Homo sapiens: one gene and its partners. The protein of the gene in region 3 interacts with the protein of the main gene of each other region in a biochemical or structural test. Each region holds a gene or a part of one and is shown on either strand. Other genes may lie near its edges. The genes, in order: MAML1, SIN3B, HDAC9 and MEF2B.

The links.
Region 1: the proteins of HDAC9 (region 3) and MAML1 form a complex in vitro, tested with the Homo sapiens proteins (one study listed by BioGRID).
Region 2: the proteins of HDAC9 (region 3) and SIN3B form a complex in vitro, tested with the Homo sapiens proteins (one study listed by BioGRID).
Region 4: the proteins of HDAC9 (region 3) and MEF2B are reported together in a solved structure, tested with the Homo sapiens proteins (one study listed by BioGRID).

Annotation. Positions count from the first base shown.
Region 1 is NC_000005.10:179,770,817-179,777,800, forward strand, and holds the end of MAML1 (mastermind-like protein 1), read left to right. Parts: intron 1-330; coding exon 331-427; intron 428-3,078; coding exon 3,079-4,061; 3' UTR 4,062-6,467; downstream 6,468-6,984. UniProt on the Homo sapiens protein: Acts as a transcriptional coactivator for NOTCH proteins. Has been shown to amplify NOTCH-induced transcription of HES1. Enhances phosphorylation and proteolytic turnover of the NOTCH intracellular domain in the nucleus through interaction with CDK8.
Region 2 is NC_000019.10:16,874,394-16,880,867, forward strand, and holds the end of SIN3B (paired amphipathic helix protein Sin3b), read left to right. Parts: intron 1-1,661; coding exon 1,662-1,835; intron 1,836-2,092; coding exon 2,093-2,185; intron 2,186-3,151; coding exon 3,152-3,246; intron 3,247-3,789; coding exon 3,790-3,997; intron 3,998-4,103; coding exon 4,104-4,334; 3' UTR 4,335-5,956; downstream 5,957-6,474.
Region 3 is NC_000007.14:18,491,093-18,498,754, reverse strand, and holds the start of HDAC9 (histone deacetylase 9), read right to left. Parts: upstream 3,007-7,662; 5' UTR 2,732-3,006; intron 2,494-2,731; coding exon of another isoform or gene 2,453-2,493; coding exon 2,431-2,452; intron 1-2,430. UniProt on the Homo sapiens protein: Responsible for the deacetylation of lysine residues on the N-terminal part of the core histones (H2A, H2B, H3 and H4).
Region 4 is NC_000019.10:19,167,248-19,174,840, forward strand, and holds the start of MEF2B (myocyte-specific enhancer factor 2B), read right to left. Parts: upstream 3,017-7,593; 5' UTR 2,958-3,016; intron 1-2,957. UniProt on the Homo sapiens protein: Transcriptional activator which binds specifically to the MEF2 element, 5'-YTA[AT](4)TAR-3', found in numerous muscle-specific genes. Activates transcription via this element. May be involved in muscle-specific and/or growth factor-related transcription.

The DNA of each region.
Region 1 (6,984 bases), on a different chromosome or scaffold from region 3:
GATTTCTCTACATCCTCACCAACCACTTGTTATCATCTGACTTTGATTCTGGCCATCCTAGTGGGATCTCATTGTAGCTGTGATTTGCATTTTCCTAACCAGCTCTCCATTTTTTAAAAACAGGTATACCTACCTTTTAAAAAAGTCATTGCTCCCTAGATCTGTTTCATACTATTTAAAAACCCCAAAATGAAATCAGCACTATTTCCACAGGAGCCCATTTGTGAGTAACAAACTTGGATAAGTTACTTTTCTCTGACCTCCCTCACTCCCTTTGTTTTGGATTTTGTTATATGTTGGTTTTGTTTTGTTGTTCTTGGCATTTTCTAGGAGAAGCAACAGTTTCAGCGCCATCTGACCCGCCCACCACCCCAGTACCAAGACCCGACACAAGGCAGCTTCCCACAGCAGGTTGGACAGTTCACAGGTAGGGGGTGTCTGTGTGACGAGCAGGGACAGGGGAGGCCGCTGCCTGGTGCTGGTTGAATCCCTGCTGTCTGCCCAGCTCTATGCCTTGACTTCATCAGGCTGCATGCATTGTCATCATATACACCTCAGTTTGCCTAAGGGGCCTGGTTTTCTAGTTACTCCACGGCATCAGGAGAAGAGGGCACAGAGGCAAACCACTAGAACTACCTTTGCTGGGTCCCTGGCTGTACAGTTTTCTGAAGCAAAATCATTTCTAGTTGGAGGACATCTTATCAGCAGGAAATAGCTTCTGTAATTCTCAAGAAAGTTCTTTGCTTCTGCTTTTATGTGTCTTCAAAAAATGACTCCTATCTTCCAGATAAGGACTTAATGCACTTGCGTGGCCTTTGGCTTCTTTCTCTCCTCCTGTCTGCTCACTTGAATATCACAGATGGCAGCATCACTAGTGGACAGTTGGCCAGAAAAGGGCAGGAAGCACACTTGAGTCTAGCTGTCGCCTCTGAGATGTGCCAGGGAACTTCATAGGCCATCCCTCCAGAAATGCACAAAGATTTCAGGGAATGGATACAGGAAGCTCTGGTCTGCCCGCCTTCCTAGCTCCTCTCAGAATGTCTTAGAAACCTCTGTTTTTCCTTATTTGGGACCTTGCTATAAAGGGTCCCAGAGAGACTGACCACAGCTGTGTGTCCTGGAGGAGACCAGGTACGGTTTTATGTATGTGCTACCTGGGGTCAACGTGGGGTTGAAATCTGCAGGCATTTCAGAAGCATGGGTCTGACCCATGTTTTCTGCCTTCAGACCCATCTGACATTTTGTGGATTATTGATGGGAATGAAATAGCCGGTTTCAGCTCTCCTCTTTTCCTCAACCCAATTTCATTGTTGTTGTTTTGAAACAGAGTCTTGGTCTGTCGCCCAGGCTGCAGTGCAGTGGCACGATCTTGGCTCACTACAACCTCCACCTCCTAGGTTCAAGCGATTCTCCTGCCTCAGCCTCCCAAGCAGCTGGGATTACAGGCGCCTGCCACCACGCCCGGCTCATTTTTGTATTTTTAGTAGAGATGGGCTTTCACCATGTTAGCCAGGCTGATCTCACATACCTGACCTCGTGATCTGCCCGCCTTGGCCTCCCAAAGTGCTAGGATTACAGGTGTGAGCTACCGTGCCCGGCCCCAATTTTTATTATATGGTTGCTAGTAGAGAGGAAGAAGAACAAAGCACTGAGTTACGGCCAATCCCTGAACAATGACTCTCCTACCCACAAAACCTAATTCAGTTAATGGTGTTGTCATATGTCCATTGCTTAAGCCAGGAGGCCTAGACAGCAGTTCCCTGAGCATAGGGGTGCTTTCTCTTCCACCCTCTGCTGTCTCTCCAGCACAGCACCTGCCACAGAGTGGGTACTCAGTGAAGATCTGGTAATTTCCTGCGACTCCTCCCTCCTTTGGCCACCTTGTCATTTCATAGTATAAATGGTGTGCCATAAGATGGTATATTGTCTGGTGAGATGTTGTCACACAGTTCTGCACCTCCACCCCCCATTCCCACATGGTCTGCCCTCCCTCATCTCCGTGACTGAACAGCCTCTCCCCAGCATGGTCTCAGCCACACTCTCAGTCCAGCCACTCTTGGGCTTTACAACCCTGTTCTTTGTTTGTTTGTTTGAGACAGAGTCTTGCTCTTTCGCCTAGGCTGGAGTGCAGTGGCATGATCTCGGCTCACTGCAGCCTCCGCCTCCCGGATTCAAGCAATTCTCCTGCCTCAGCCTCCCGAGTAGCTGGGGGCGCGCGCCGCCACGCCTGGCTAATTTTTGTATTTTTAGTAGAGACAGGGTTTCACTATGTTGGCCAGGATGGTCTTGATCTCCTGACCTCGTGATTCGCCCGCCTCGGTCTCCCAAAGTGCTGGGATTACAGGCGTGAACCACCGCGCCCGGCCACAACCCCGTTCTTCACACGCCATCCACAGCTCTTCCCTATCTGGCCGGAACTAGCTCTTCCATTTTATCTCTAACCAGCTGGCCACTGTCTGCATATCCCGGCCACGGCCAGTCTCTGAAAGTTCCCCACACAGATGCCTTTTTCTGACTCTGCCTTTGCACACACTTGCCTGGAATGCTCTTTTTCCCCAAACTGTTAAATTGCTAAACTTCTGTGCTTTTAAACCTAGTGGATTCATCACTGTCTCTCTCAAGCCTTGCCCAAGGCTTCCCAGATGCCAGGGCTTCCAGCCTGCACCCTGCAGCCTGCTGGCCAGGCGCGCCCCATCGCGCCCCATTGCGCCCCATCGTGCCATGTGCTAACTTTGCCTCCCAGAGGCGGATCTTGCGTTGGGTCCACCTCAGAGTCCCCGGTGCCCACCACAGGGTCCCCACAGAGCAGAAATTTGGTGGGTGCTTGAAAGTTAGATGAAGTAGGTCACTGGTTTTCTCTCCCCTGGGGCTTTGCCCTTCCTCTGTGCCTTTCTGAACCCCATCATTGTTTCAGAGACCAGGCCTCCATTCCACCTGTGGAAGGCTTTCTGCCCCATGGCCCCCGGGGCCCTCTTCCCAGTGTGCCGTGAACGTGAGACTTCTGGTGCTGCGGCTCGAGTCTCAGAGGGACCCAGTGGTGGTCGACTCCTGACTGCCAGACTCTTCTCTGTCTTGTAGGGTCCTCTGCTGCCGTGCCCGGCATGAACACCTTGGGTCCATCCAACTCCAGCTGTCCTCGAGTGTTCCCTCAGGCTGGGAATCTGATGCCAATGGGCCCTGGACATGCTTCAGTTTCCTCTCTCCCCACAAACTCAGGCCAACAGGACCGGGGTGTGGCTCAGTTCCCTGGCTCCCAAAACATGCCTCAGAGCAGCCTCTATGGCATGGCTTCTGGCATAACCCAGATAGTTGCCCAGCCCCCGCCACAGGCCACCAATGGACATGCCCACATTCCACGGCAGACCAACGTGGGCCAGAACACCTCCGTCTCAGCTGCCTATGGGCAGAACTCTCTGGGAAGCTCTGGCCTCTCCCAGCAGCACAATAAGGGGACCCTGAACCCTGGTTTAACAAAGCCACCGGTCCCAAGGGTGTCACCAGCCATGGGAGGCCAGAATTCCTCCTGGCAGCATCAGGGAATGCCGAACCTCAGTGGCCAGACCCCAGGGAACAGCAACGTGAGTCCCTTCACTGCAGCCTCCAGTTTCCACATGCAGCAGCAGGCCCACCTGAAAATGTCTAGCCCGCAATTCTCCCAGGCAGTGCCCAACAGGCCCATGGCTCCCATGAGCTCAGCAGCTGCCGTGGGGTCCTTGCTACCCCCAGTGAGTGCACAGCAGAGGACCAGCGCCCCTGCCCCAGCACCACCCCCAACAGCCCCTCAGCAGGGCTTGCCTGGCCTGAGCCCAGCAGGGCCTGAGCTGGGGGCCTTCAGCCAGAGCCCTGCCTCACAGATGGGCGGTCGGGCGGGGCTGCACTGCACCCAGGCCTACCCTGTGCGGACCGCGGGCCAGGAGCTGCCTTTTGCCTATAGCGGGCAGCCAGGTGGCAGTGGGCTCTCTAGTGTGGCTGGACACACCGATCTGATCGACTCCCTGCTGAAGAACAGGACTTCAGAGGAGTGGATGAGTGATTTGGACGACCTGTTAGGGTCTCAGTAATGGAAGGATTTGTAGTGTTTTTAGTGTTCATTCATCCTATATTTTTATTCTCAGATTCAAAGAAAGAGCAACTACTTTGGACCAAAAGCCCATGGCCTGGGGAGCTGGGCAGGTAGAGCCCAAGCTCCAGGTGAGGCCTGGCCCTGGGCAGGGTCTGTGGCTGCGCCCCTCAGGCCAGCAGTTGAGGTCCATCGGGCTGGCCCCAGCCCATCTGCTGGCATCAGTACCTGGTGTTGGGACAGCAGGATAGGGTTCTAAAGGTGGTTTTCTATCCAAACGACCAAAAAACCAACAGTAACACCAGTGAAACCCCACACTGTCGGGCTTATAAAAATCTGTGCCATCATGGTGATTTTATCCAAGACTGCTCCACTTACCCCAGTGCTGGGGACAAGTTTCTGTTGAAACTTTAGATAGCAGAATTATTTGCAATTTGTAGCATAGAAAAGATTTTTAAATTTTTTTACAAAAGGTTTTTAAACAGATTAGGGTAGGTGATGGTTTAAATCAATTAAGTGGCATTGGAAACCTAGGGTTTCCTTTTGATTAAGAGCCTTTTTTGTTTCTGCTCTTTGTCAGCTTTCAGGGGAGAAGGAGGCCACTGGAAAATTATTTCCCTAAGTGCAGGCTGTTGACTGCGTATGCCAAAAAGGGACAGGAGGCATGGGATAGCAGGTCTGGTGACACAGCTAGGGTCTTCCTAGCAGCTCCTCCTCCTCCCTCCCAAGGCCCCCAGGAATCCCTTCCTCCCATGTCCTGGCAGCAGGACCCCAGGCTACATATGGAAGGTAGAGATGTGGGGGTCCTGTATCCTGGAGTATTATGTCTCCCCACCTTCTGCAGTTTTCTCTGAACATGTATGTTGCCCATGGTGGGAGCGTGGTCACTGTGCAGTTGTGCACAGATGTCTTTCCTTTACCGTTGGCCTTTCTGTCTGCCTCTCCTTCCTCTCTGCAGCCCAAATGGAAAACAATTATTTACTCCATTGGAGGGAAAGGAAGAGTCTTAGAATTCCTAAGGGAACCTTAGCATAAAGGTTTTGGGGAAGGAGGCCGTAGGCCGGCCCGGAGGAAGCAATTCCACTTGGTTTGACAACTTCTGCCACTCCCATGTCAGATGACTTGCACTTCTTAAAGAGATTGCTTTATAACACTAAGACATCCTTTCTAAAGATTCAAGTGGACTTGACTAAGCTGAGGGTCCACGAAATAGAATATGACATGTGAGCTGTTTTTGGAAAACGAAGATGGAGAGAGCACTTCCCCGTAACGAAAGCAAAGTGGTAAGCACAGGGTGAGACCCTTTTACACAGAATGGTGGAGAGAAAAGAGAATGCTGAAAAGTGGCTCAGATGCAGAGTGTTCTGTGGAGAAACTGCAGCCCCACTTCTGTTTCCCTGGAGTCTCCCAATGGATCATTCAGGAGTGTCCTATGTGAGAATTGAGCCAAGGAAAATACTCATGCAACCAGCCTGAGTCGCGGTGAGGGGACGAGAGGTTGTACACACATTGGTAGTTATTTTGCACCAGCAGTGCCTTTCTCACTGGGGGTACTTGGACCCTCAGATCTTCTTTTCTAATAGCCATTTGCCACCCCAAGTGGTATGTCGGCCATTTCTCCTTAAAACACCTTCCCTACCTTTCCCATGTACTCAGTTTAGCTCTCAAAGAAGGGGTGAATCATAAAGCCAGTGAAAATTTCACCCTCTGAGGGAGTTCCCCAATCTGAAGGGGAAGAGGGTGACCTCAGCGGCTTTTCTCCCAAAAATCGGCTGAAGGCTGGTTGTGGATCCTTGTTCCTCTCCTGACCCCATCTGGCTGCTGCCCCGTCTCCCACCCCTGTCCCCGGGGCTCGCTGGCCCTGCACTCCGCCTTAGTCCTGGGGCCGGCGACACAGTGGGGGCTCCTCACTTGCTGCAGTGTCATAGCAATAAAATGTGATTCTTGGGGTCCCCCCAGGGAGCTGCCCATGGCTTTATTTATGAACCTGGTTTTCGGGAGTCAGGGGAGGAGATGACTTTGCTTCTGTGCACAGCCCCGTCTTCCAGGAGCCACAACTCAGAAGAAAAGGGTGCTCAGACTTTTGTTATACACATTTGCTTTGTGTAAATAAATGTTTACAATTTTATATGAAAGATGGAATAAGCGCTAGAGCTTCCAACTGTATATTTTTTACTTTTATAGATTTTAAAACTATGATCCTTTATATGTGTGTTTTGGGGGAGCTATGATAAGTTTTATGGCAAACGGTTGGTATTGTTAACTTTTTATTGTCATCAAAAGTTCATAAAAGTCCTATTAATCCCCATATTCTTCTACTGCCCTTAACTCTGGTATACACCAAAAAGAAATCTTTACTTTCCTTGTTTTATCATTATAAAAATAAAGTATTTTGCTAGTATGGAAACAACCTTTGTATTTGACGTCACCTGGGGTCTGCTGGCAGAAGTTTGGGGATTGGTTTTCTTTTGTAATTTAGCTGCTTGCTTTTCTTGGTTTTTTAATTTTTTCTTTTTAAAGAAATGCTTGTCGAGTCATAGATTTAGCTGCTTTCTTATTGCACATTGTTGGGTGGGAGCTGGTTTGGTTGAAGCCTCAGAGGAGCTTCTGTTATCTGCTGATAGATACTAAATTAGAGCTAGCATCACCCTGAGAAAGCAGGCTGGCCCCAGGACTCACGGGCGTCCATGCAGCTGATGGAGGGGAGCTGGACCGGACGACTGTGCTCTCTTAGCTCTAGCATCACCCTGAGAAAGCAGCCTGTCTCCGGGACTCACGGGCATCCATGCGGCTGATGGAGGGAGCTGGGCCGGACGACTGTGCTTCTCGTGCTTCATGTAGAACCCTTAGGTTTGCCCCTGAAGTCTGTCTGCTCCATGTACTATTTAGTTGCTTTTCAGCATAGAGCTTGGTTTTCCCTTTTT
Region 2 (6,474 bases), on a different chromosome or scaffold from region 3:
TGGTCTGGTCTGGCTTTGGTCTGATTTGGTTTGGTTTTGGTTTGGTCTGATTTGGTCTGGTCTGGTTTTGGTCTGGTCTCATCTGGTCTGGTGTGGTTTGGTTTTGATTTGGTCTGATTTGGTCTGCTCTGATCTGGTCTGGTCTGGTCTGGTTTGGTTTGGTTTTGATTTGGTCTGATTTGGTCTGGTCTGGTTTGGTGTGGTTTTGGTTTGGTCTGGTCTGGTCTGGTTTTGGTCTGGTCTGGTCTGATCTGATCTGGCCTGGTTTGGTTTGGTTTTGGTTTGGTCTGATCTGGTCTGTTTGGTCTGGTTTGGTTTGGTTTTAGTCTGGTCTGGTCTGGTTTTGGTATGGTCTAATCTGGTCTAGTTTGGTTGGTTTTGGTTTGGTCTGGTTTGGTGTGGTTTGGTCTGATCTGATCTGGTCTGGTTTTGGTCTGGTCTGATTTGATTTGGTCTGGTTTGGTTTGGTTTTAGTCTGGTCTAGTCTGGTCTGGTCTGGTTTTGGTCTGGTCTAATCTGGTCTAGTTTGGTTGGTTTTGGTTTGGTCTGATCTGATCTGGTCTGGTTTTGGTCTGGTCTGATTTGATTTGGTCTGGTTTGGTTTGGTTTGGTTAGGTTTTGGTTTGGTCTGGTTTGGTCTGGTCTGGTCTGGTTTTGGTCTGGTTTGGTTTGGTTTTGGTTTGGTCTGGTCTGGTTTAGTTTGGTCTGATCTGGTCTGGTCTGGTTTGGTTTTGGTTTGGTCTGGTCTGGTTTTGGTCTGGTTTGGGTCTGGTCTGGTCTGGTCTGTTTGGTCTGGTCTGGTCTGGTCTGGTCTGTCTGGTCTGGTTTGGTCTGGTCTGGTCTGGTCTGTTTGGTCTGGTCTGGTCTGGTTTTGGTCTGGTTTGGGTCTGGTCTGGTCTGGTTTTGGTCTGGTTTGGGTCTGGTCTGGTTTGGGTCTGGTCTGGTTTGGTCTGGTCTGGTCTGTTTGGTCTGGTCTGGTTTGGTCTGGTCTGGTCTGTTTGGTCTGGTCTGGTTTGGTCTGGTCTGGTCTGTTTGGTCTGGTCTGGTTTTGGTCTGGTTTGGGTCTGGTCTGGTCTGGTTTTGGTCTGGTTTGGGTCTGGTCTGGTTTGGTCTGGTCTGGTCTGTTTGGTCTGGTCTGGTCTGTTTGGTCTGGTCTGTTTGGTCTGGTCTGGTCTGGTCTGGTCTGGTTTGGTTTTGGTTTGGTCTGGTCTGGTTTTGGTCTGGTTTGGGTCTGGTCTGGTCTGGTCTGTTTGGTCTGGTCTGGTCTGGTCTGTTTGGTCTGGTCTGGTCTGGTCTGGTCTGGTCGGTTCGGTCTGGTCTGGTCTGGTTTGGTCTGGTCTGGTCGGTTTGGTCTGGTCTGGTCTGTTTGGTCTGGTCTGTTTGGTCTGGTCTGGTCTGGTCTGGTCTGGTCTGTTTGGTCTGGTCTGGTCTGTTTGGTTTGGTCTGGTCTGGTCTGGTCTGTTTGGTCTGGTCTGGTCTGGTCTGGTCTGGTCTGTTTGGTCTGGTCTGCCCACAGCCTGTCAGGATTCTGGTCTCTTCATCCCTGTGTCATGCACTCTCCATCCTGATGTGTTTCTGGCCTTTGTCGACTTCCTCTGTGGGTGAGGTGGGGACTCCCGCAGGAGGCGGGGTGGCCGCACCACCTGCTTTCCTCCCGCCAGCTGCACCACCTCGTGAGCGATGACGTCTGCCTGAAGGTGGTGGAGCTCTACCTGAACGAGAAGAAGCGGGGTGCCGCTGGTGGGAACCTGTCCTCCCGCTGCGTCCGCGCTGCTAGGGAGACCAGCTACCAGTGGAAGGCTGAGCGCTGCATGGCCGACGAGAACTGCTTCAAGGTGAGAGGAGGCCTGGGGCTGGGAACACGCCGGGAGGCCCGGCCGCTCACTCCGCTCTGGACTCAGTCCTGGGTGGACCCTGGTTCAGCGGCTGGGACACCGGCCCTGCTGCAGAGCCCATGAGGTACCTTTGACCTGCAGGAAGCATCAGGGCTTTGGGAGGGTGGCAAAGGCGGGAGGCGGGTGGCCTTGCGAGCCTGCGCTGTGCCGGCTGGGCTGTGCCGGCAGTGGAGGCTGTCAGCGTTCCTGCTCCGCAGGTGATGTTCCTGCAGCGCAAAGGGCAGGTGATCATGACCATCGAGCTCCTGGACACCGAGGAGGCCCAGACGGAGGACCCTGTGGAGGTCCAGGTGAGGCCCTGGCCCCAGTCTGTGCCACGCATACCAGGGAGCGCCTGAGGGCAGCAGCATGGGGCTCCCACCAGCCAAGCGCAGGCCGCGCAGCATCCAGAGACCCTCCCTCTGCAGGCCACAGGCTCTCCTTGAGGCCTGGTGGGTGGGGTTGCCTCCCTCCCTGCTCCCCCACCAGGCTCTCTTCTGTGCCCCCTCTCCAAAGAGCAGACCACTCCTCCTGAGCAAGCGGTTGTGTCCCAGGGCAGGAGGGGAACCAAGCCACCTCTCCCTGGCCCCCGACTCCCACTCAGGGCATCCCGTGGCTGTGACCTCTGCACCTCTTGTGTCAGGGCTGCATCCTGTTCCTAATCCCCAGCAGAGGAGCCACCTGGGCCCAGCTCCCAGTCACAATTTTTGCGGGGACAGATGTTTCCTGCTCACCTCCCGCATCCTGGTGACAGTGAGGCATTGACCCGTGTGTGTCCCCAGGGTGGTCATTGGGGCCTGCAGCTCCCGGCACCTGCCAACAGGTCCAGTGTGTGTGCACATTACTCAGCTAGGCCAACCCCATTCATTTCCTGGGGCTACCACCACAATGACCACAAACCACGTGGCTTCAAACAACAGAAGTCTATTCCCTCAACGTCCTGGAGGTCAGCAGTCCACAACCACAGTGTGGGCCGGGCGGTGCTCCTGCCAAAGGCTCTGGGGCGGATCCTTCCTGCTCTTCCAGCTTCCGGGGGCTTCTGGCGCTCCTCAGCTGTGGCCTGGTTGTGTGAGTCCCGCTGTCACTGGGTCCTCTGTCAAGAGCTATAGTCTGTTGGGGTCTCCGTCAGGGATCAGAGTCCTCTGCAGCGGCTCTCCTCATGCTCTGGCAGTGGGGGGCACAGAACCCCTGTGAGCTCCTGAACTCAGAGTCCAGAGTAAGAGTGGCCATAGCCCTGCTGTAGGGGCATCACGGGCTGTGTCTCTCCCTGTCCCCAGCACCTGGCTCGGTACGTGGAGCAGTATGTGGGGACCGAGGGCGCGTCCAGCTCGCCCACTGAGGGCTTCCTCCTGAAACCTGTGTTCCTGCAGAGGTAAGAGGCCCTGAGATGCATGCTCTGTTCCTTCCTTCCTGGGCCCAGGGAGTGTCCCCTTTGTCCTGACGGGGGCTGGACCATGGCACACTGTCTGGGAGCACTTAGTAGGTGCCTGCTGTGTGCTGAGGCAGGCCCTGCCCTTTTGAGGCTTGTGGTTTGCAGTGGAGGGATTAGTAACCCCAGGACGGTGAGGTGTAGGAGGGGCAAGGCCAACCCCACGATGCGTCAGTGGGTGAAGAGTGAATGCCCGGACTGGAGGGAGACGCTGCCAGAGCTGGTGGGGCCAGGCCAGAGGCGGGTGGCTGTGGCAGGACCCTGGACCACCTCAGGTCGGGCTAGGATGGCACCTATGGGACCAGTGGGGGCTGCTGGTGGGTGTTCAGATCTGGGGGCATTTCTTGTTGCTTCCATTTGCTTTCTGTGGACCCCTGGGAGGTAGCACATCTTCTGATGGTCCCAGGCCTGGGGGTTTCCCAGCCTGCAAATCCTCCTCCCACAATGCCGAGAGCCAGAGTCCATTCCACCTCCTTTCGCCCCCAGGAACCTCAAGAAGTTCCGCCGCCGGTGGCAGAGCGAGCAGGCGCGGGCCCTGCGCGGTGAGGCCAGGAGCTCCTGGAAGCGGCTGGTGGGCGTGGAGAGCGCCTGCGACGTGGACTGCCGCTTCAAGCTCAGCACTCACAAGATGGTGTTCATCGTGAACTCCGAGGACTACATGTACCGTCGCGGGACCCTCTGCCGGGCCAAGCAGGTGCCAGGGGAGGCCTGGGCTGCCCCGACATGCCCCTCCTCACCCCAAGTCCTGGGGCCCTGGGGGTCCAGCCCTCAGCTGCCCTGACACCCGGCCTCTTCAACAGGTGCAGCCCCTGGTCCTGCTCCGCCACCACCAGCACTTTGAGGAGTGGCACAGCCGCTGGCTGGAGGACAATGTGACGGTGGAGGCGGCTAGCCTGGTGCAGGACTGGCTGATGGGTGAGGAGGACGAGGACATGGTACCCTGCAAGACGCTGTGTGAGACAGTGCACGTGCACGGCCTGCCCGTGACCCGCTACCGCGTGCAGTACAGCCGCCGCCCGGCCTCGCCCTGACCCGCCCTCATGGGCACCGGGCAGGCGCCTCACAGAGCACAGACGTGCCCTCGGCCTTGGTCGTGTCGGGGCCGTTTTCTTGAACGACGTGAGAGGCATCTCCCAGCCCCTCTGCTGCCGGACAGCGCACTCCAGGGCAGGACGCCGCCCCCGTGGCTCCCGGTCTCCTGTGGGCCTGCTGTGTGCCAAACCTGAGCTACCTGCACCCGAGCCCTGGGGCTCAGCCCCACCACAGGGGCGGGTGGACGTGCTGGCCGAGGAACAAGCAATCATGTTTGCGTCCCCGTCCGTCACATGTGCCAAATCCCTGGCAGGCAGATGGCTCCTGCCCCATATTCTTGCCGTGTCTTGGAAAAGTCACAGGTGACAGCCCTCCTGAGGCCCACACTTTGGAGGGGGTCCATGTCCAAGAGACCCTGACAAGGAAGGAGTTGAGCCCTGGGTAGGCTTGCTTGAAAAGTGAGTCCTTCCAGAATATTCTCAGAGCTGCCAGAAACATCATCTGAGGGTTTGGGCATCAGCTCTGCCTGGCTGGTGTTCAGGCCCTCAGTCACTTTGGAAGTGAGAAGAACCCTTCAGCCAAACCTTTGGGATCCCATTTTGAAGTCCAGAGCTGGAGCAGGCGGGCAGTGCCCTGGGAGACCCCGCTCTGGATAAGACACCCAACCCCAACTCCAGCAGCTGGACTCTGGGCCCACAAGGGGAGGGACCCCAGCCAGTATTCCCTCAGAGCCGGCACGACCCTGCTGTGGGGCGGCGGGCCCAGTCGTGTTCCTGCAGTGGGCACCCTAGGCGTATGTGTATACACGCACAGATATTTATTCCTTTCGCTTTTAGTGGTTGTTATTTCTGTAGCAGCCAAGTCCTGCGGCTCCCTGGGGCTGAGATCTCCCTTTGTGGAACTCCGAGAGCCGCCCTGACAGTCCCAGCCGCCACCCAAGGAGCCCCATCCGCCCACCCACCCTGGGACCCACGCGGCCACTCCAGGGATCATTGTTGTCCTTTTGTGAGGGGCTGAGGCGACTGTCCCATGGAGGCATCCAAGGCTTTCTGTGCCAAGAATCCCAAGTGACTGGGGCTGGGGACCACTTCTCCAGGCCTCTCTCCCCGACCATGAGAGCCCCTGGCCCTGGCCCCTGCACACCAGTAGGCCCAGAATAACCGCCACCCTTGCCATCCTGCAACAGCTGGACTCAAGTTTCCAGGAAGTGGAGATGTGTTTCTAGAAGTTTCCTGTGGAACCTGGAGGCTCCTGATGCCTTTGACTCCAGGCTGGGCGATTCCGATGCTGACCCGTCCTCCTGGGCTCCCCACCCCCGCTCCCCAAGTGTCACACAGGCACTTTGTACACATCCTGGTTTTCTAAGAAGGGAACTTGCCATCAAGATTCCTGTACCAGGCCCACGGCCGTCTCGGGCAGAGCCACCTGGGCCCCGGGTGCAGCCGGAGACCCCGCCGAGCCCCTCCTCCCAGTATTCCCATCCCCGCATGCTTCTAGGGAGCGCCTCTTTTCCGTTCTTGAGGAATTTCTGTTCTGGGGCTTGTCCTTCCTTTGCAGCTGTTTTGAATGTAGTTTTCCTTTTCTATTTATTTGCACATTAAAGTTAATAATTGAATATTGACATCAAGCCGTGAGGGTGTGTTGGTCTTCCTGTGAGAGCCTTGCTGACTTCCTGCCACCAGGTCAGTGGGCTGGACCCATGAGAGCAAGGGGTGGCTGGGTGTGCCTACCTGGGACCAGGGGAGTCGAAGCCCCTCCTTGAACCAAGATCATCTCACACCCTGCACCTGCCCCGCCACGACATGGGAGTGTCTTCTAGAATATTCTTTCCCCATTCCATTTGCACATTTAGTGGGAATTAGAAGCGTCTCCTTCGCCCGAGTGTCTCTCATGCAGAACCCAATTTAAAGATCATGGTGTTTGCTCTAAGGTGTTTGTTCTAAGCTTCCCATGCCCAACCTATCCGTCCAGGCCCATGCCTGCCCACCCACCCCACACGACCACCCTCTGTACTCCTTGGGGCCCCACCCACTTCCTGGCTTTCACCATCATTTTCTCCTCATCTCCTGCCCCCTGTCTGCATCCCAAGCTCCACACCTGCTTCCGGGTAGCAGAAGCCCCAGCTCTGCTGTGTCCCCT
Region 3 (7,662 bases):
CAGTTTGAAGATGAGTAAAAAAATCAGTACACAATCGGCTAGCAGTGGAGCTCATGCTAGAATACAGAGTGTCTGACTCCTAGAACAGTGCTCTCTCCACTCCTTTGCACTGCTGCCAGGCATCCTTTCTCTCTTTCAAATCCAAAGACTCTGCTTCTAAGCCTATGAATCACGTCCAGACCACTGGTCCAAAAGGGAGCTGAACAAGATTTGTAGCTAAATTAAGACAAACATACCCCTAATTTAGCAGTTAGCTCAAAGGACAAACCCTACTGATAGTGGTTCACCAGCATCACCATCTGTTCCCTAGCCCTACAGCAGTGAATCTCAGTTTGCTGAAGGTTAAGGTGGGGAGATTTTAAAAACCTCAATCCCCAGGCTGTTCCCCATACCAATTAAACCAGGCATTCTGGGAGTGGAATCTAGGTATCATATTTTGTAAAGTGCTTCTGGTGAGTCCAACTTTGAGAGCCAGTGCCTCACAGGAAGTATACAATAAAGACTAGGTGAATTAAATTTAAGAACATATATGAAATATATGGCATGGCAGGAAGGGTGTAATTGTTTTTATGCTTCACATTTTAAAAATAAATAGAACTTAGTGATTATGTATTTATACCAGACAGGTTTTGGGAGTTGATGTTAACCTACATCACTTTTCATTTAATAGCTAGCTGCTGCTTAAATGTTGCTTCTTGTAGAACTGGCCAAAGCATGGACAGCCTGAAGCACTTCCCTGTCTGAAAATCTTGTTGCTTTGTACACAAACCATTAAATGCTAGGAAAATGACAATCTCTACTGAAATGGGTGTAAAGCTGTATGTGATTATCAAAGATGTGGAGAAAAAAGCAAAGCTTGCAAACACCTGTAGCCAGCCTTAGCTTCAGCAGACACTTGCTACTTGGAAGGCATGTATGTTTCTACCATATGAAAAAAAATATCAAACTTGTAACACAGAAGTGAGGACTAAAAGGATAAAGCATAGTGCTGAAAAGATTTCTAAAATAGTTATTTTCAAAGGGTTCATCCATATTTTAAAAAATAAAATGCTAAGTTAAATGACCAGTCCCATTAGAGACATACCTGTTAAACCCTCCCGGAGCCCTTGTCAGCTTTGCAGCTATAAGAATAAACTGTACTGAAATTCTGGTAGGTTTGCTTTTGTTAAGCAGGCACTATTCATTAACATAATTCCTGTCACTTAAGTGTATAAATACCAAATTATGCAAAATTGATATTTTATTCTGATTCCATGAAAAGATTGGGTCAACAGAAGGATCTTAAAATTAACATAACTAACCAAGGTTTAAAGAAAACTAGCTTTAAACATAGATCCCCATATGGGAAGGTGTATTAACACCAAAACAGACATCATGCCAACCTGTGGAATATTTCTTTCACACCTAGCTCTACAAAGTAAACACTGCTTTATGTGGCATTCTTATCATGGAAATCTAGGCGGTGATCTATAATTACGATTAAGCCCACATGGGAAGTGGGATCTAAGTGAGAACTTTAAGCCAATTTTAGGTTGAAACATTCAGAAGAGGACAGAAACAAAGAGTTCCCAAAGCTTTAGGAAATAGCCATAGGAAATAAATATGAAAGGCAATAATTACACGTTAAGTGATACTGCCTGGAGAGTATGTTCATTTAGTAAGTATAAATTGACAAGGCTGACAAGCTCAATCTCCCACCAGCTCATCTCCTTGAGAAACTAGAAATTAGAATCTGTTCCTATTATCCTTTAAAACGCTGCACCTGCTTTTAACACATTTACATGTGTGTTATGCCATCACATCTGCCTGACAATGCTAGACTTCCCACATGTTTTTGAAGAAAATTAAAATAAGCATCTGCTAATAACAATTTTATTTCATCCTAAACAGTTTCATTTGGGGCTGATGAGAAAAAGCCACATAATGGAAAAAAGAAAACTACCTTTATAACTCTGTGGCAAACACATTTTAGAAGGTAGGTCTATAAATAGATGTGCTTCTGTAGGCACAGAGTAAATATAAAATCGTCAGGCTAGCGGGGCTGCAGTTTAAACTGAAGCCCCAATATGAACTTACCTGATTTTTAAAGTCCTATTAGAATAGGCTTACAATCAGTACACAGCTCCTTTTTCTAGTTGCATAGTAAAGGCAAAACACCCCCAACTACATTTTACTTATCTCAGTCTCATCTTTCATCAGAAGCAATAGTTTGCAATTTCATTCAGAAGCTGCTGTCCCTAAGCAGACTGAATATGCACAGAAACAGTAATGGAAGGGATCTAAGTTAAACCCTACAGACGCACCAAGAAAATAGCAACATCAACACGAAAAAGCAGCAATTTCCTTAAGAGAGGTGCTTTTCTTAGCTGCATTTCCCAAGCCAGCCCCCTTTCAAACCTAAAACGTCTCAGTTATGAAAGAGGATCTTACCTGAGCTGATCATACTGTGCATTCTTTGCTGAGCCAAGAGCTGCTCTCGTCCAGCCACCCCATCTGAGGAAAAACAGGAGTCACTCTCGTAAATTGTCTGCAGCATATTCCAGTCACTCTTACTTCAGCTACATGAAACATTCATCACTGCTCAGTGCACCGGCCCCAGGAGCTACCCTCGCTGGTTCTCCCTCCTCCCTGAGGAGAAGCAGCAGAGGATCAACTTCGACAATGATTTCCTTTCTGCTCAAATGGGCATCCACTTTTAAAAAGACCTGGACACTTTTCCCATGTTACCAACCTGTGTGCAAAGCAGAAAGGACAGAGTGGATGCTATAGCTCTCTGGAGTTTAGGTTATCCCGGAAACTACAAGCAGGTGGGAAATAGGAACGTGCTTCGGGGTTATTTCTTTGTCAGAATACGTAGAAAATTATTAAGTCTACCCACGAGAAAAAGAAACCAATTAAACCTGGCTTAGAGTTCTTCAGGCTGCTAGGGTTTTGTTGCAAAAACCCTCAGTCCTGCAAGTGGCTCCAGCCGGTGCCCTTCTCCTATCTGTGTCTGTGCCTCTCTTCCCCCTTTCTCAGTCTCTCTCAGCTCAAGTTGGCTAAAGCGAGTGATAATCCATTTGCATATGAATCAACAACAGCATGGCCCACAGGCACAGAAATAGAACAATGGTCGGCCTGAGCCAAAAATAGGTCAAGCATGGCCGAGTGATTGGAGCCTGCATTAATGCATTTAAAAATACCCCAGCAAACCCAGCTGTCCAGCCTCTATCTTTCCAACCATAATTCTCTATCGCAGGGCCTTAAAACCAATTAACTCTTTCCTCTCTCGAAGCTTGCTTTACACACTGTGTTTCCATACTGGCGATTCGCTTCCAAAGAAAGGAAGGCAAGAAAAAAAATTAAGAATCATAATTCTAAGAGGGCAAATGCACATACATTTCATTTCATTTTATTTTTGTAGTATGTGTTTTTGGAAGAGAGAGGAGAGAAGTACAGAGCTCTGTATTGGTTCTAAAATAATACTGGAAGCTTTTGCTCATAATGTGGTTTCTGCCTCACCCACGCACAGCAATCCTGGTGTTCTATTTTTGTTGCCTGTTTCTCAGGCTACACTGCAGTTGGCTGTAGCACTAGAAGCTTTTCTGCCTTCTAGTTTCAGGACTAACAGGAGATTTAGCAGAGGTACTTTTGGAAAACAAGCACACCCCAGAATAAAATTTTTATGAAGGACAGGCTTGATTTTTTACTTGCTATTTATGCAAGACAATTGTCCATTTCACAAATCCTATTGTATCTTAGTACCACCTATGAATTTTATCGCATCCATCCAGTTAGTACTATATCTATAAACAAAACAAAACACAAAACACAAAACCGTGGCTTATATGTGAAAATTTCCCCTCAGCCTCTCAGGCTAAATTCAATTTACTTGCAAAAGGAAAAGAAAGTAGTCTGATTTCTTATGGATACAGAATTTCTGAGCATATGCACCTGTTGATGGATAAATCATATATATGGTTAGTACCCAACTATGACTGTTCTGCATTCAGCTATACATTGGTTGCCCGAAATATGGACCTCCTAACTTTTCTGTAGAAATAGCATTTATGATAGTCAATAGATTACCAGACACATTGTGGCGTTCAGCTATACAGTACAGTAGATAGTATCAGAGTTTTATAGTCTCTGGTGCTACATTTATATCCTTTCTATATAAGAGATAAATTTTACATTCCAAAGAGGGATCCTAGCATCTTGTCACTTCCAAGAGCAAACCCAAAAGTGATAATCTACTAGTCATGGAAGCTCTTTTCTCTTTTCTAAACTAAATCAGCGAGGAAAATGTAATTCTAAGGCATCAGAAGCAACAGGGGAAAGAGAGGAAAAAGCAGATTATTTCAAAATTCCCAGAACAATCCGATGGAAGAGGGATCTTGGTCAACTCCAGAGTATGAAGTCAGAGGGGGCAAACAAGGGGACACAGAGTTTTGATGAAAGGGAAGAAATAAGCACGTTAAATCATTCATCAAATAGGCCACTGCTGAATTCCTCTTCTTTCACAGATTAATTTCTACTGAATACTCTACTTCTTGAAAAATTGTATTTGGATATGTAAGTTACAATTTTTAAAAAATATATATTCCAAACTGCGTTTGACTTAAGCTACACAACAAAATCTTATGTTCCTGTCAGTGGAAAAAACAAAAAGCAATTATCTGATTCCATCTGATATTACAAATAAACTTTTGATTACAAAATTTATGTGTAAAATTCAAAGGATAGAAACAGTGTGGACCTAATAATTTTCCTTAAGGATGATGTACTGAAGTAGTAACTATCATCACATTTTAGACCTGGGAGGAAATTTAGAGATAGTCAATTGTAGTTTTCAAACTCTGTCTCATGACATAAGGTACCTGCGAGTTGCCTAAGTTTCCTCAAAAAAGGTTCTCCGTGGAACCAGGGGAGCTCCACTTTTACCTGTTTCCATTTGGAGATTTGAGATTTCTTTTGAAGAACTTTTTTTTTTTTTATTCTACAAAACATTTATGTAAAGAACATTTTTTAAATTGCGGTATATTTGACAAATCAAGATTCTTTATATTTCAGGTGTACAATTTGATGATTTGATACACCTATACCTTGTGAAATAATTACCATAATCAAGCTACAAATCTATCATCTCAGCTAGTTACCATTTTTTTTGTGGTGAGATCAGAACAAGAACTTCTTATATTAAGAAAAACAATCATTGAAATTCACTCATGAGGAAACGAAGGAGGCTTGATTACAAAAGGACTCACTATTGGAGTCAGGCTTTAAAGACAGTAGCTTAAGGAAATACAGGTAATTAATAACTAACCATATAGGTCTAGCATTTATATTATCCAGTCTCACCATCTTGTCCCTTACCAAAATGATACAAATCATTATCTGAGATATTCCAAATAAAATTTAATATGATCTACTGATGAAAAATGGACCCACTGTCTGTTTCAGAGTGATTTTTAACAGAATACAAAAATTTATGATGAATATACAAAAGAGATAACAAAATCACCATATTGATACAATATGCCTATGCATCTTTTGTCTTTTTAAGTTTAAATTACACCTTCAAACAACAATTGATAAAAAAAGATCTCTCAGCTTTTATAATAAAAAATAAAAAATAGAATAAAACTCCAGAAGACTGAGTTAGTAATTATCCTAGTTCTTAAAGGATCCAGGAAAGGGCATTCCACATAAAATACTGTAAATAATGTGTCTTCTTCATTTTGACCATTATTTAACATGAGGTTTATTTACGTTTCATCCCTGCATTCTTGCAGTATGTTTTTCCATCAGCCATCTTCTCTTTTATTTAACTCTTGATAATGAAAAAATATTTTAGAGTGAAAAGACATTGGATACTTACAAAAAACCCCACTTGTTTCTCAGAAGAAAAATAAGTATCATCAAAACAACCATCAACTATATTGATTACCATATTTCCATTATTAAGAATGTTGAGTTAATTCTTCCCACATCATCTCAGTAATGTTAGTAAAGAAATGTGACTCAGTTTCTTTTGGGGTATTTATAAAACTACAGTTTACTAATGTGGGGGAAAAAGATATATGTTCTATTACAAGAACTATAACAAGCTAATACAAATGTCAGGCTAGGTAGATGGGTAGTTTAAAAAGTTTCAATGTAACAAATTCAAATTCAATTAAGTAAGCATTTATTGCAAACTAATCCAAATATTATATGTTATATACACATAGGTCAAAGAAAAAGGTAAAAAAAGTAACAAGGGCCAAAAAAATCTCAGGTTCTCAATTTAATAGTAAATGAAAGTGGGAATTAAATCCTAATGTAAAATGTTATTTCAAAGTTACCATAATCCAATTTCTTTCTATGCAGACATATAAGCAAAAAAAAAGTATTAAAAAACCTGTATGGCACCAAAATATTTCCAGAAATATCCTCAGACCTCTAGCTCACAATGACCTTTTCTAAAATGGATTTAGATCACAATCCTGAAAGACACAATCCCACATGCCATAATCCTGAATGTTGAAATCTGAAAAGATACAAAATCCCTAAGGTCTAAATCCCTTAGGTCTAAAATCTCTCACGTCTACAATCCTGAAAATAACAATCTCGAAATATTAAAATCTCAAATATGAAATCTTGAAAGCTGCATTCTGGTGAAGCGATTAGTTTTTGGTCGTATGCAGGATTATTGCATCATGTTAGTTGCATCATGTTAGGCGGCTGTTACAGTCTTTACTTGGAAATTAAGTATGGTTAAGGAGAGACTTACGGGAGCCAAGTTGACAAGGGGTGGACCTGTGGATTCAATTTGAGATGTCACTGGATTAAATACTTAGAAACCTATTAAAGCATTTTTTGGGTGTGTCTGTGAGGGTGCTTCCAGATGACATTAGTGTGAGTTTGAGTGGATTAGGTGAAGAAGATCTCCCCTCAATGTTAGCAGGCACCATCCGATCTGCCGGGGACCCATATAGAACAGACACAGGAGGTGAACTGGTTTCTGTCTGAGAACTAGGGCAGGCTTCTCTTCGAATGCCTTGGACATCAGAAATTTGATTCCACGAGAACTGCATTATCACAACGTTGACTTTGCATATAAGCAGTACTTCTGAACCCAAACATGTCGAAATTTCTTCAATAAATGAAAGAAAGATTTTGTACATCTGCGCTTGTGAAAGAAAATTTATCAGGATCTCGGTTCTTTGGGTAACTATATGCGTGTTGTTGACCCACTGAATTTTTTGATCCATCTTGCCAAAAAGCTTAGCTTCTTCATCCGGAAATTTAAGATGACTACAGTTATATAAAGCTGGGTGCACACAATTATCAACCACAGTGATATGCATTTATACATTTCCATTTTTGACCTATTTCTTTATAAATACGGTTTGTCTGCATCATAACTGTTATACTGGTGTGACTGTTGCTAGTATACCTGAGTGTTTTTGCTTGTAAAAATATGTGCCATTATTTATTTTATCGTGTACAGTGTATTGTTTTGTTTTAATTTTTCTCAAATAAACCCCCTTTTAAAATGTAAATAAATATAAAGAATGTTTTATTATTTCTTTCAGAATTATATTTTCATCTTTTGGGATTTCAACACTTGAGATTATGGAGTTCAAGTTGTATTTTTCTGGATTATAATAGGCTTTCTTCTAAAATCAATCTCAGTTG
Region 4 (7,593 bases), on a different chromosome or scaffold from region 3:
GGCTAAGGCAGAAGAATCGCTTGAACCTGGGAGGTGGAGGTTGCAGTGAGCCGAGATTGTGCCACTGCACTCCAGCCTGGGCAACAGAGTGAGACTCTGTCTCAAAAAAAAAAAAAAAAAAAAAATTAGCTGGGTGTGCTGGTGTGAGCGCGTATTCCTAGCTCCTCAGGAGGCTGAGGCAGGAGGATCACTTGAGCCCAGGAGGCAGAGGTTGCAGTGAGCTGAGATCACACCACTTTACTCTAGCCTGGGCAACAGAGCAAGATGCTGTCTCAAAAACAAAGAAAGAAAGAAAGAAAGAAAGAAACCTCTTCCAGAAGGCCAAACACCCAACATGTCTACACTCACTGCACCCAAGTTGGGGTGAGCAAATGTTTTAAATTCCCCTTCTCTTCTTAATTTGCATTTTCCAGATGTCCACCTGGTTGGGTCATAGTTTAACCAAATAAATCATTCGTTGGGATGGGAAAGCCAAGAGTGGGTTCAGCTTGCTCCGCTCACAGGAGCTGCCACAAAGTTCAGAGAGGGGCAGCCACCTGTTGGGGGGTCACACAGAGAGGAGGGAGAGGAAGCTGGGCCTCGTGACCCCAGCCTCTGTTCTCTTGGGGGACTGAGGCATGGCCTTGAGCTCCATCCTTTTTTGAGGGGCCTAGTGTTACTACCTGGCCTCAGCCTTCCCTCCTGCAAACCAGCTTCCTGCTCTCTAAGATGACATCCCAAGATCCTAACTGTCCTGAAATTCTGTTTGCTGGAGGCCAAGCTTCCCCCTTTACTGAACAACAGGAAGGGGACATGAGGGAACAAGCCTGCCTTTTTAGAAAGCCCTTTTCATCTCTGGAAATCAGTCCTCACACACTGGTTCTCCGAAGTCGAAATACTTTTTTGTATCCAGTTTCCTTCACTCCAAGAGTCTGAGAGTTCTTGTCCCGAATGCCCAAGGTCCAGGGGCCCTGCCCTTCCCCAGGGATGATTCTTGGCCAGGCTAGCCTGAGGCCTTGATTATTGTTTTGTTTCTTTCTTCTTTTTTTTTTTTTTTTTTTTTTGAGATGGAGTTTCACTCTTGTTGCCCAGGCTGGAGTGCAATGACACGATCTTCGCTCACCACAACCTCCGCCTCCTGGGTTCAAGCGATTCTCCTGCCTCAGCCTCCTGAGTCGCTGGGATTACAAGCATGTACCATCATGGCCGGCTAATTTTGTATTTTTAGTAGAGATGGGGTTTCTCCATGTTGGTCAGGCTGGTCTCGAACTCCTGACCTCAGGTGATCCGCCCGCCTCAGCCTCCCAAAGTGCTTGGATTACAGGTGTGAGCCACCGCGCCTGGCCATTTTTTTGTTTCTTTTCTTTCTTTTTGTTTTTCTTTTAGAGACAGGATCTTGCTCTGTCACCCAGGCTGCAGTGCAGTAGCTCAGTCATAGCTCACTGCAGACTCGAACTCCTCGGATCAAGTGATCCTCCTGCCTCAGCCTCCCGAGTAGCTGGGACTATACACATAAGCCACCACACCTGCCTAATTAAAAAAACAATTTTTTTTGGCCAGATGCGGTGGCTTACTCTTGTAATCCTAGCACTTTGGGAGGCTGAGGCAGGCAGATCACATGAGACCAGCCTGGCAAACATGGTGAAACAACGTCTCTACAAAAAATGCAAAAATTAGCTGGTCATGGTGGCACACGCTTGTAGTCCCAGATACTCGGGAGGCTGAGGCAGAAAATCAATCACTTGAACCTGGGAGGCAGAGGTTGCAGTGAGCCAAGATTGAGCCACTGCGCTCCAGCCTGGGTGACAGAGTGAGACTCTGTCTCAAAAAAAATTTTTTTTTAAAGCCAGGTGCAGGGGCTCACGCCTGTAATCCCAGCACTTTGGGAGGTTGAGGCAGGTGAATCATTTGAGGTCTGGAGTTCAAGACCAGCCTGGCCAACATGGTGAAAGCCCATCTCTACTAAAAATACAAAAACTAGCCAGGCGGTAGTGGCACGCGCCTGTAATCCCAGCTACTTAGAAGGCTGAGGGAGGAGAATTGTTTGAGCCTGGGAGCTGGAGGTTGCAGTGAACAAAGATCACCACTGTACTCCAGCCTGGGCGACAGGATGAGACCCTGTCTCAAAAAAAAAACAAAGAAAGAAAAGAAAAGAAAAAGAAAATGGGGGTCTCACTATGTTGCCCAGGCTGGTCTCAAACTACTGGGCTCAAGTGATCCTCCTGCCTCAGCCTCCAAAGTGCTGGGATTACAGGCATGAGCCACAGTGCCCGGCCAGCTATTTCTGACTAATTGGGTCTGCAACTAGGGGTTAGGGTGGCCAAGGACACAGGTCACCCATATCTGCAGCCCTGGACCCCAAAAGAGATAGGGAGGGAGGACTGTGACCGTGAAAGTAATGCTGCCACCACCTTGTCATGTGCTAACAACCACACGGGGATGTGACTCTTGTTCCTGTACCCATTGAGGCAAAGGGAGGAGAGTTGGCCCCGGCAGCTGTTGCTCCCCCGTTCCAAGGTTTTGTGCCTACCATCCTGCTGTGACAAACGAGTGTACACCCACAGCAAGAAGGCATAGGGTTGTGCACAGGGGATGCGCTAATGCTAAAGGAGTGCACACCAGGAGAGAGGGACATCACATGCCACATCACAGAGCTCACAGACACATAATAGGGCCTCACAGCACCATGATTTTGGACACACAGCTAACTCTCCAACTCCCCAACTCACACCAAATCTCAGACGCAGAGCCCTTGGACACACAACTTCCAGACCCACACCCTTCAGACACACACCCCTTGGAGACACAACCCCCTCCTGCCACAACCTCGGGGACTCACCACCCCACGACACACACCCCTTTAGACACACACCCCACCCTGGGACGCCCAGCAGTACACCCGGACCTCCAAAACCCACCCAGCCCGCAGAAGCCGTTCAGAGGACACCACAGGAGTCTCAACCCGATATGACACGCACCTGCTCGGCCTGGGCCCTGGGACGCTGGGCGCACGGACCCGCGGCGGCTGCACGAAGATCAGGGGCCCGCGGCCGCAGGTGCCTTGGGAGCGGGCGGTCCTGCCCCCGGGAGCTGATTGGGCGGGACGGGCTTATTTGCATACAGGGCGTCACCCTGGAGGCGGCGATGGGCGTGCACTTGGGCGTGGCCCCGACCCGGGAGTTCATGGGCCTGGGACTCAGACGCGAAAGGATGCTGGGGCGCCATGGGTGGGGGCGCGGATAAGGAAGAAGCAGAACGGAGGGAGGGGGCTGGATCAGACTGGCCAGGCTTTCCCCGCCCTCACTGGGCGCCCTTGACCTTACTGCCGACCCCTGACCCTACTGTGACCCTAACCCTAATTCTAAACCTTTTCCTAACTCGGCCCAACTTGCCTGGATTGATTCCATCCTGAGTGAAATAGACTCCGATCCCGGACCCCGTCGCCCCGAGGAACCAAGCCCTTCTCGCAGGCAACGCTGACCCTCGCGCTCGCTAGAATGGAAAGACTGCAAGACGGGGCTCTCGGGTGGCCTGTGTGGCCTCACTCAACTGTGCCTCCTGGGGCCAGATATGTGCTCCCACAGGGAGTGACAGACCCTCCGCAGCTACTGGTCCCTCAAGCCCGCACCGCCTGCCCCTCCACAGTCCAAGACAACCACACTGCTTCCACCAACCACTTCCCTCTCCTTACCTCTCCCCGCTAAAGGCTGTTTTCTAAACTTCAAAGGTCAGCTGTGAGGGGCCTTCCAGGATTGGACCCCAGCCCAGAACTCTAAATCCACCCCTTCCCCTGGGATCCCAGCACAGGCCAGACCCACAGGAAGATCAGAGCAGGGGTTGGTGAATGTATCAATGTGAAAAGAATTACAGGATAAAGATGGCTCTGGGATGGGCACTTCTGGAGAAGCCCCCGGCCCGTCTGGGGCAGGCAGGGGATCCATGCACTCCCCTAACCCTGTGGGGTCAGGCTTGGGCCAGAGGAGGGATGGGAGGCTGGGACAGGCCAGAATTGGGGCAAGGGCTGTGCCAGAGGAGTCAGGGAGGGTTTCTCAGAAGAGAGGGCATTTGTGCTGGGCTTTCAAGTATGTGTAGGAGTTTGCCACTAGGAGAAAGGTTTTTCTTGTTTTTTTCTTCAAGGCAGGATCTCACTGTGTTGCCCAGGCTGGAGTGCAGTGGCATGATCATAGCTCACTGCAGCCTCGACCTCCTAGGCTCAAGCAATCCTCCCAACTTAGCCTCCCCAGCAGCTGGGACTACAGGCAGGCCACCACCAGGTCCAGCTAATTTTGTTTTTTTTAAGAGAGGATGTCTCACTATGTTGCCCAGGCTGGTCCCAAACTCCTGGGCTTAAGAGATCCTTCCTCCTCGGCCTCCCAAGGTGCTGAGATTACAGGTGTGAGCCACTACACAAGACCCGAGAAGGGCTTTTTCAAGAGGGAAAAGCACTTGCAAAAGTGCAGAGGAAGAGCATAGAACATTCTCTGGCCGGGGAAGATGAGGAAGGTGAAGCCAGTATAGCGGGCAGGGGGTGAAGAGGAGGGGCAGATACAGGTGGAGAGCAATGGGGCTGCAAAGCTGCCTGGTGTCCATCTCCTCCAGAGAAGAGAGGGGCTGGTCCCCCAAACTCAGGGGGAGGCATGTGGCAGATGCTGGAGTGTGGGGGACACTGAGACAGGGAACAGGGGGCCTGGGAGGCTTGTGTCTCTCCCCACACCTCAGTTTACCCGTCTGTGACATGGGCAGTGTGGGCCTCTAGTCTGAGCACAACTTTCTCTTTGGACATGAAAACTATAGAGTTCATACTGTGTCATCAGTGGGTCCCTCCTGTCCCCATCCAGTGCCCAGTGCCATACACTGGGGTGCCCCAAGGACATGCCAGGGCCTGGGCCAGGCTGGGGGCTTCTGCCTCCACTCCATGGTGCAGAACAAGGCTTGGGGAGTGTGGAGGTGGCTGGGGAGCCCTGGGCCCCCGGAGGGCTGCTCTGTTTACCGGAGGCCACCCGCCCACCTCTGATGCAACAGGCAGGCTCTGGTTACGTGAGGCCGGCAGCTGGGCCAGCTCTGGGGGAAGGGCTAGCCCAGCAGAGCGAAGCTGGCTGGGGCTGGCCCTTATGCACCCCAACTCCCCAGCCCCCTCCTTCTGGTGGGCACCATCTTGTTATTCATGGTCTGTCCCGTGTCCTTTTGCCTCTGTTCCTATCCTATACCTTCCCCAACCACTAATTGTGTCCCCTAGCAGGGCCACCAAGAGTCTTAACCTCATTCTTCTCAGATGAAGGGACACCCTTAGTTGCTAGAGTAAGAGGTTGGAAGGTAGAAGGGAAGGTTGTGAGGAGGAAGGGATAGAAGGGTCCAGAGTGGGTGGTGAGGGAGAAGAGTGACCTGGGAAGCAGGTCTGGGAGATGGGGGAGGTGGTGGGTGGGGGATGGAGGAGAAGGCTAGGGTGGGAGGCTGGGGGAGGTGGAGAAGCTGCCCCCGCTGTCTCCCTCCTCCAGATTCTCTCCCCTCTCCCAGGAGAAGGCTTTGAAGGACCTTCCATGATAAGGATGTGTGACCCAGTAGGTAGGGAGGGCCCTGAGGTTAAAGAACCCTGAGTCCCCATCCCAGCTGTGCCGCCCACTCACTGTGTGACCTCAGGATGGTCACTGCACCCCTTGGGGCCTCTTTGCTCATATGAGAAGTGTGGATAGGCTGGGCGCGGTGGCTCACGCCTGTAATCCCAGCACTTTGGGAGGCCGAGGTGGGTGGATCCCGAGGTCAGGAGATCGAGACCATCCTCACTAACACGGTGAAACCCCGTCTCTACTGAAAATACAAAAAATTAGCCAGGCGTGGTGGCAGGCGCCTGTAGTCCCAGCTACTCGGGAGGCTGAGGCAGGAGAATGGCGTGAACCTGGGAGGCGGAGCTTGCAGTGAGCCAAGATCGTGCCACTGCACTCCAACCTGGGCGACAGAGCGAGACTCTGTCTCGAAAAAAAAAAGAAAAAAAAAAAAGCCAGGCATGGTGGCACACACCTGTAATCCCAGCTACTCAGGAGGCTGAGGCAGGAGAATTGCTTGAACCCGGGAGGTGGAGGTTGCAGTGAGCCAAGATCACGCCACTGTACTCCAGCCTGGGTGACAAGAGCAAGACTCTGTCTCAAAAAAGAAAAAAAAAAAAAAAAAAAGAAGAAGTGGGGATAATAGGAGCCCTTAAGGCCCACCTCCAATGTTCCCTCCTCCAAAAGCCTTCCTATCCTCTTACCACTTAGGATCCTTCCACCTCCCCACCCTTCCTTCCAGCTTAGCACTGATCCAGGGGGCGGGGTAGAGTATGTGGCTGGTTCTGTGTCCCCCAGCCTGGGGGTTCCTTGGGCCCGGGCCCAGTGCATGGTGGCACCAAAGGGGTGTCTCCACGGGTTTCTTTCTTTTCATTTTTTAGAGACAGAGTTGCTCTGTTGCCCAGGCTGGAGTGCAGTGGTACAATCATGGCTCACTGCAGCCTTGAACTCCTGGGCTCAAGTGATCCTCTCGCTTCCATCTACCAAGTAGCTGGGACTATAGGAATGCACTACCACACCTGGCTAATTTTTAAATTTTTTTTTGAGGTGCACTGGGTGTCTCGCTTGTTGCCCAGGCTGGTCTCGAACTCCTGGGCTTAAGCGATCCTCCTGCCTTGGCCTCCAAAAGAGCTAGGATTATGGATATGAGCCATTGCGCACAGCCTCCATGGGTTTCTTGAAGAACTGGAGAATCTCAAAGAAGGTCTAAGCAGTGAAAGGGAGTGGGGGATAAGCCTGGGGCACCCAGAAGCCTTGTTCAGGGATACTGTAGGGAAAAGAAAAAAAAAAAAAAAGGCTTTCCAGGGGCCTGAGTGTGCAGGACTCTCCGGGAACCCAGAGGAGTAGGTCTGAAATAAAAACCAGGACTCACACCAATGGCTAAGGACAAAAACCCAGCGGAAGTCTGATTCTTGTCCTGACCACTGTGGACGGAGCAGGGGGCAGGTCGCTGCCCTGTATGGGTCTCCTTTTACCCCATCTGCAGATCAGGGTTGGGATCCTTTCTGGGTGATCTCCAGCCTCGTGAGCACTATGCTTCTGTTTGGATGCCCCATGGCACGGAGAGCTCACTGTCTCTCTTCTAGCTGCCTATCTCTGGAGTTCTGCCGGGAGTTAAATTTTTTTTTTTTTTTTTTTTGAGACGGAGTCTGGCTCTGTCGCCAGGCTGGAGTGCAGTGGCGCAATCTCGGCTCACTGCAATCTCCACCTCCCGGGTTCAAGTCATTCTGCTGCCTCAGCCTCCCGAGTAGCTAGGATTACAGGTGCTCACCACAGCCAGCTAATTTTTGTATTTTTAGTAGAGATGGGGTTTCACCATGTTGGCCACGACGGTCTCAATCTCCTGACCTCGTAATCCACCCGCCTCGGGCTCCCAAAGTGCTGGGATTACAGGCGTGACCCACCATGCCCAGCTGGGTGTTTTTTGAAATGGAGTCTACCTCTGTCGCCCACGCTGGAGTGCAGTGGCGTGATCTCGGCTCACTGCAACCTCCACCTCCCGGGCTCAAGCGATTCTCCTGCCTCAGCCTCCAGAGTAGCTGGGGATTACAGGCATGCACCACACCCAGCTAAT